Homo sapiens: one gene and its partner. The protein of the gene in region 2 interacts with the protein of the main gene of each other region in a pairwise test. Each region holds a gene or a part of one and is shown on either strand. Other genes may lie near its edges. The genes, in order: MLYCD and CROT.

Region 1 (3,920 bases), on a different chromosome or scaffold from region 2:
CTATGCAAGAAATTTAAAGACAAGTTTCCCAGTTTTCGAGGAGCTGATCATTTACATGGGGGGATGATATACTGCAAGTACTATGTCCAAGTGTGGATCAGAAAAACTCAGCTATTCAGACTAGGCTTGAGCCCAGAACATGATAATTCAACACAGTAAGAATTCATGACTGATTCTGTGTCATGCAATTAGCAACTGTGGGCTTTCTGTCTGAGAATCTTACGGCCAAAGATGCCTGGCCCTCAGTAACACTTAGCGCTGTAAATTAACCAGCTATCACGGGGAATCAAATCATGGCCACTGTTGTCACTCTTGACATTAATCCCATACTTAATTATGCCCAATTTTATGCATCTAAGTAGCCAAAAAAGAAAGTTTCTAATAAACATCTGATTAACGGTAAGACAGTGATATAAAGCGTAGTGCAAATAACCCTGGATTAGGGTGGGTGATCAGCAAGAGCTTTTCGCTCTGAATTTCAGGACAAGTAACACAACCTCAGCATGTTCTCCTTTACTGTAAAAGGGATACGTGTTATCACCCACGTAAGACTGAAGGAATGTAAACTATTAAACCAGTATTAGAGTTCTTAAATGGGTCAAGTCATAATCATTCAAGTGTTCAATTTTTTTTTAACACCAACTGCACATAACAAACTTCTGAATGTCCAAAACTTCCTGAAACATTTACGTCATTTTTCGTTCATTAAAAGGGCAGGTTAAGCCTGGGCCACATGGTGAAACGCCCTCTCTACAAAAAAAAAAAAAAAAAAAAAAAATTAGCCGGGCATGGTGGCCTGCACCTGTAGTCCCAGCTACTCAGGAGGCTGAGGTGGGAAGATTGCTTGAGCCTGGGGAAGTCGAGGCTGCAGTGAGCCGTGATAACACCACTGTACTCCAGTCTGGGCAACAAAAATAAAAATAAAAAAAGGGCAGGTTAGTTTTTCGCCGTATTTAATACTAACAGTATAAAAGAAGAGTATATGTTGCTCTAGGCCTTCTTTCGGGTCATAATCATTTAAATCTCAAAGTATGTGTCTGCATTTAACATGAATGAACTGTGCTAATGCCTGATTACCTCAAGTCAACTCAGAATCATCACATTAAGTACTGAACGCAGGGAGTTAAATGCCCTCCCAAAAGTCATGGAGCACAGACAAGGCCAGAAGCCATGGAGACTCCTGGGTGGTGGTGGTGACCTTGAGTCCTATTTACCTTTGTGCATTTCACAGGACTTCTCAGGACAATGTCTCACACATAGCGGGTGCCCAGTGAACTTCTGAAACACCATCCAGGGTCTCAGAAGGCTGCCTGATGCTCTAGTTCAGGTATACCATATAGATGAAACACTTCTCAGCTACAATAATTTCAAAAGACTGTAGAGCACACACTAATCAGGTACGAGAGGTGACAGCTACCTTAAAGACCACCAAGTGCTGAGTATTTAGTAAACACTATACAAGTGAGGACTTCAAGGACAGACTGGAGGAAGGCGGGGGTGTGCTCTGACGAGGCCAGGACTCAGACAGCGTGGGAAGGGGACACAGTTGGCAGGCGGTAACTGCGGGCGAAGTGAGCGTGCTATCGGGCAGGGAAGGCGGGGTGTGTGGGACTTGGAGGGGGCAAGTGAGGACTACTCGAGGAGGGCGGCCAGTCCGCGCTGCCGGGGGATCGACGGCGGCCCCTTACCCGGACGTCCGGCCCCTCCACCAGCTTGAGGGCCTGCGCCTCCAGCAGGTCGGCCCGCAGCTGCACCAGGAAGCGCACGCCGCCGTCCAGCTTGCTGATGTGGTGGAAGAGGCCGCGATAGCGCGGCACCAGCGCGTAGCGCAGCCGGTCCTCGGCCTGCAGCAGCACCGCCGCCTCCCGCTGCTGCTGGCGCAGATGGAGCACGCCGGCGCTCTGCTCCGCCACCTGGCCGTGGTCCACGCCGAAGCCCCGCGCCAGGCGGCCCAGCAGTTCGGCCCGCTGGGCCGTCTCGGCCAGCCCACCGTAGAAGCTCACGAAGTCCGCGCACTGACCCTCGGCGGGCGCCGGTGTCTTCTCGCGCAGCTCGTAGGCCGGCGTCGGCGGCACCGCGCGGCGCAGCAGCTCGTCCATGGCCCGCTCCAGGGCGCCGGCCGCCTGCCCGCTCGCCAGCCGGGGCCCGGGCGGCCGCGGGGGCAACCGCAGCGGGAGGAGACGCCTGGCCGTCAAGCCTGGCCCGAAGCCTCGCATGGTGCCCCACAACAGCTGCCGAGGGGGAGCGCCGCCGCCGCTGCCGCGCTTCCGGCTTCCGGCGCGCGCCGGCCCCATTGGCCGAGGCCGCGAGCCCGGCTGGGGACGCGGCCAATAGGAGGGCGGGGCGGTGGGGGCGAGGCGGCGGGGGCGGAGCGGCTCTGGCGGCGGCCGGAGGCCAAGTGTGGCTAAAGGTTACTGCCCCGCGGCTGGGCTGCCTCGGGGCCTGCTCCCGCGCGGCTGGCGGCTTGTACTCCGGTCCTAACACCTGACCGCCTAAAGGCACCGGCCCAGCCCCTCCTCTCTTTCCCGACTGCACTGCACAAGTGCCGCCTCCTCTCTAGATCCGAGCGCCTCCAGCCTCCCGGTGCATCAGAGTCACCTGGGAACTCCTGCACCGGAGGATTCCTGGGCTCCGAAATCAGAATCCTAGAGATTCAGATTCAGTGTGTCTGGGAGGAGCCAAGGAATATGCTTGCTTAAGAGGTGTTTGTGGCAATCCTCTGGCATGGTAGGTAGCCTTTGTTTGACCCCTGCCTAGGCACTCACCATTCGCGTCAGTGTCTTACACACATGACGCTCAGAGCCACAGAGGTTGGAGGGGTGTGTGAGTGTGTGTGGAGAGAGAGAGAATATGTCTATATGTATGGATGTATGTACACATACGCACGCATATACACATACATATGTATGTAAAAGAGACATGGAGACAGAGAGACTGATGGAAAGCCATACCCTTGAGCAAATGCCAGAATGAGACAAAGAGTTTTCTTTGAAATAGTTTTCAGATAATTGCAGTTATCAAGGCATATTTATTTTGTCCTCTAGAAAGATAGGCCTGAACTCTAGTTCCCCCTCCTTCCCCAATCCATTACAATCTGTAGAAGAGAATGTCACATACCAGCCATGTCTCCCACATGCAAAATTGCAGGAGGCATTAGGAACACAGTGGGATTTTGTTCCACTCTGATGGAAATATGGCATCTTTGGTTGGAGGGTGAGGGAGCCATGTACTTGGTTGACTATGTCTAGGTGCTAGGATTTCTATAGGTAGAACCCTTTGGTGCAGGTCTTGCAGTATAAAAGACACCTGGAGGTAGTTCTGTATGAGGACAGCCTTTGCTGGGTGTGTCTCATCTTATGGGGCACGAAGAAAGTACGTTTGGCTCATTCTGCCAAGACACAGACACACAAAACATTCTGAAAGCCTAGTGGTGGCTTTTGAGGACACCTCTCCATTCCTCTTTTCTAAGAAGTGGTGAAACCATATTGCCAGCTGGCTAAGGGAGTTGGTGGGGTCCAAACTCTGGTGTTTGTCTCTTTGCCTTGTCGAGTGAGCTTTTGTCTGTCCTAGGATACTCCTGCCTTGCTTTAGGAATCTTGTCTTGAAAGCTTGACTTTGCTTAAGCATTTGCTAAGTGTAGTACTCCCACAACCCTGTTCTTTCTCATCTTTCCCGGTGCCTTCCTTTTTATGTAATTTCTGGCTTCTGTTTTTTTTTTCTCTGTGTTTATACTTTTTTCTCTAGGCGTCAACAGCCATCCTCTGCTTTTTCCCACTCATGTCCTTATTTCAAAAGACTGCCCCAATCCAAAAATGAAATTAAAGAAACAATTCTATTTACAACAACATCTGAAGGGATAAAAGAAACATGTTTAACCAAGGAAGTGTGAGACTGGTAGATGGAAAACCACAGAACAGTAT
Region 2 (3,820 bases):
GATAACCTATTTGAGTCTCAGAGTTGTATTTGTCAGTACCTACTGTTTCTTAATCGGCTGTTATTTGCTGTCTGTGTCTCGCTAGTGACACATGTCGCCCTGTGCTTGCATGCCCTGAAGTTTACACCTGTCATTTTTTTCTGGTCTTGATGATTTTCATTCTTTGGGTTATTTAATTCAGCATCTCTCAATTGAGGGAAGTGAACATTCTCCAAGTTGAAAAATAATAATAATTTTATATAATTTAGAGCTTATTTAAAATTTACCTATGAAAGAAGGTAAAAAGGAACAAGTAGGGAGAGAGAGATGTGAAGAAAGTTATGAATATAAAAATGTACTTTTGGCCGGGCCCAGTGGCTCATGTCTGTAACACCAGCACGTTGGGAGGCCAAGGCAGGTGGATTGCTTCAGGGCAGGAGTTCAAGACCAGCCTGGGCAACATGGCAAAGCTCCATTTCTACAAAAAATACAAAAATTAGCCTGGTGTGGTGGTACATGTCTATAATCCCAGCTACTTGGGAGGCTGAGGTGGGAGGATCACTTGAGCCTGGGCTGTCAAGGCTGCAATGAGCCGTGAATTTGCCACTGCACTCTAGCCTGGGCAAGAGAGCGAGGCCCTATCTCAAAAAAAAAAAAAATACATATTTTTGGTAAGAAAGGTTATACAGAAGGGAATACTTTTGTATGAAAAAGTATCTTGTATGGTAAATTTTTGTCCTAAAGTAAAATGACTGATTATTTAGGAAAGAGAGAAGTTTAGAACAAGTCAGAAAGTCCAAGCATGTCATAGACGGTTTGTGTAAGTCATGATAAGATTTGTGAAGGGGAATTCATGAAAGGAATTTTGTATGTGATTAAATTGGTTACAGTGAAAAGAAAATCATTTATAAATAAGTCTTTCTAAATTTTGGTCCCCGATGTTAAAACAAGATTTTTTTATGGTATTAATCTGCTCTTAATAAAATTACAAGAAATTTTACTTTTACTTTTATAAACTGTTTCTTTTAAAAAGTCTCAGAATCATATCCCAGAAGTTCAGCTTTTACTGTGTCTCACTGCTTTTTGCTTTTTTGAGGTCTGAGATAATTCTTTCCTTCAGCTTTCTCATCAACTTTTTTTTTCTCCAGTTCTAATTTTACTGTTGTTATGAGCTAATGCTAAAATATTTTATCTTGAAGGTCTAGAAAAGCAATGTTTACCTCTAGTATAACTTGATTCTGTACTTTTGGCTTTTAAAATACATCTAAATTGTCAATGTAATCAAAAAACTAATGCTGTTCCTAAGAGTGAGGTAATCCTATGCTATAATCATAACCTTGAATATACTCTTCCTAGGTCCAGTTAAATCCAAGCACTTTTTTCATCAGGTTTGATGTCCAGGTTATCTAAATGGGCTTCCCATAAGCAGAAGTAGTCACACTGCAGAATTTTTCTTTGCCTTTTTGGTAACTGTCTTAAGAAACAAGATTGTATAATTCCTATGCTGTCTTTATTAGGTTTTTTTGGTTGCCAAAACTAAGATTTAAAAGGCTTAAGGTTTTTACATCATGTAACCTTCTGTATTGCTTCTAAAGCATTTTCATTATCACTTTGGCTAAATGAGTAACTATTATTTTACAATGACCTCTGCTTCTGTTTTGATCAAATGTTTTCAGCCTTTTAACATGTTTAATAAACAGCCTCAAAATCAAAATCCTAAATTAAGTCTCTGACTTAGTCTTATTGCTGGGATTTATTAAAGTTATAAAAATTAATCACTACAAGACTGTAGAATCTTTTTACAGCTTTTAGTCACACCATGAACTCCATTATCACCATAATATAGTTTGGATGTCCCCTCCAAATCTCATGTTGAAATGTAACGCCCAGTGTTGGAGGTGGGGCCTGGTGGGAGGTGGCTGGATCATGGGAGCAGAGCCCTCAAGAATGGCTTGGGCTGTCCCCTTGGTGACAAGTGAGCCCTCACTCTGATTCACACCAGATCTGGTTGTTTAAAAGTGTGTGGCACCTCTTCCTCACTGTCACTCTCTCTTTCTTGCTCTTGTTGTCACCATGTGAAGTGCCTGCTCCTGCTTCACCTTCTGCCATGATTGTAAGGTTCCTGAGGACTTTCCAGAAGCCGATACCAGCACTATGCTTCCTGTATAGCCTGCAGAACTGTGAGCCAATTAAACTTCTTTTTTGAAAATAAATTACCCAGCCTCAGGTATTTCTTTATATCAATGCAAAAATGGCCTAACACATACCACCTCCACCCTGATAATTATATATACTAGAAAAGAATCAGTTAAAGGGCCAGGCGTAGTGGCTCACACCTGTAATCCCAGCATGTTGGGAACTGGAGGCAGGCGGATCACTTGAGGTCAGGAGTTTGAGACTAGCCTGGCCAACTTGACAAAACCCCATCTCTACTAAAACTACAAAAAGTTAGCTGGGCATGGTGGTGCATGACTGTAATCCCAGCTACTCAGGATGCTAAGTTGGGAGAATTGCTTAAACCCAGGGAGCAGAGGTTGCAGTGAGCTGAGATTGCACCAATGCACTCCAGCCTGGGCAACGGAACGAGACCATGTTTCAAAAAAAAAAGAAAAATAAAAGAAAAAAAATCCGTTAAAGGACTCCCTCTAGTTCCTTAAAAGGGTCCTTATCAAGTGCTATTAACTAATCCTTGTGCCTTACAGTTACAGGGCTTTGACTCCTGAGTACATATAGCTCATCTAAAGAAGGCACTGACTCCTGCCAGTATCTGATAGCAAGCTGAAGCTAATCAAAGCCTTGTCTTTAGACCTGGACAATCAAAGTAAACTATTTTCATGAGACCTACAGACAGAGACATAGGGACAGGCCTGTATTCAAAACATTAAGATTCATTTAATAATTTTGCCTATATCTGAATATAATTTTCTATGCCTTGATATTAAATAATTTAAGTATTTGGCTACGTATGGGCTTCTTTTCATGTCATTCTCATAACTAGGTAGGGCTTATGACATTTTTGTTTAAAACATTAATTCCTTATGTTTTGTTTTCCTCTATAATTTGAAACTATTTAGTCCTTCCAGGCCCAGAGACTACCACATGAGATTGTAAGGGCTTGTTGTGGGGAATAAAATCAATTCAGACCCTCCAAATCAAGGTCAGGCAAACTGCCTCTATAGCTGAACAAAATGTTGTATTTTATATGGCTAATTGCTACAAGTCAAGATTAAAATAGCTTAATGTATAGAATTTATAAATAAGCAAATTTTATAACCGTCCCATTTGGCTTTTGGCTCTTATGTTGCTTAAAAGGGGTTTTAAGGTTAAGGAGTGCCTGCCCACCTCCATTCCCATCTGGCCTAGAAAGTTTAATTGGCCATAAGTCTTTTGTTTAAGTCCCTTGGCCATAGTGGTCCCACCAAGGGACATGATGGATCCAGGGCAGGTAGCACACCACCCTGACATCAATACTGGACAAAATAAGAGCTTGGCCATTGATGGCATACCTTAACAAAAAAAAGGGGAACTATAAACTAAAATAAATAAGTTTTTAAAAGTTCTAAGCCCTTTCCCAACAAAATGGACCCTCTTCTTGGCCAAAGGGCATCCAAAACACCTGAAAACTAATTCAGGCCATGAGGGGAAGCAGGGAGATTGGACATGACTTGCCATATCTTTCCTCTTCTTGGAATTCAGTCACAACTGACTAGCTTAGCATTAAAATAGAAATCATAAGATTGACAAAACAGACTCTTTATGGCAATAAAATACCAAATTATAAATAGAATCTAAGATCACGTAAGGCAAGGGTTAAGTCTCTATTGCAGGGTAAACAGTCATA

What was found.
Region 1: the proteins of CROT (region 2) and MLYCD come close enough for resonance energy transfer, tested with the Homo sapiens proteins (one large-scale study listed by BioGRID).

The regions. Positions count from the first base shown.
Region 1 is NC_000016.10:83,897,441-83,901,360, reverse strand, and holds the start of MLYCD (malonyl-CoA decarboxylase, mitochondrial), read right to left. Parts: upstream 2,247-3,920; 5' UTR 2,217-2,246; coding exon 1,689-2,216; intron 1-1,688. UniProt on the Homo sapiens protein: Catalyzes the conversion of malonyl-CoA to acetyl-CoA.
Region 2 is NC_000007.14:87,351,922-87,355,741, reverse strand, and holds part of CROT (peroxisomal carnitine O-octanoyltransferase), read right to left. Parts: intron 1-3,820. UniProt on the Homo sapiens protein: Beta-oxidation of fatty acids. The highest activity concerns the C6 to C10 chain length substrate. Converts the end product of pristanic acid beta oxidation, 4,8-dimethylnonanoyl-CoA, to its corresponding carnitine ester.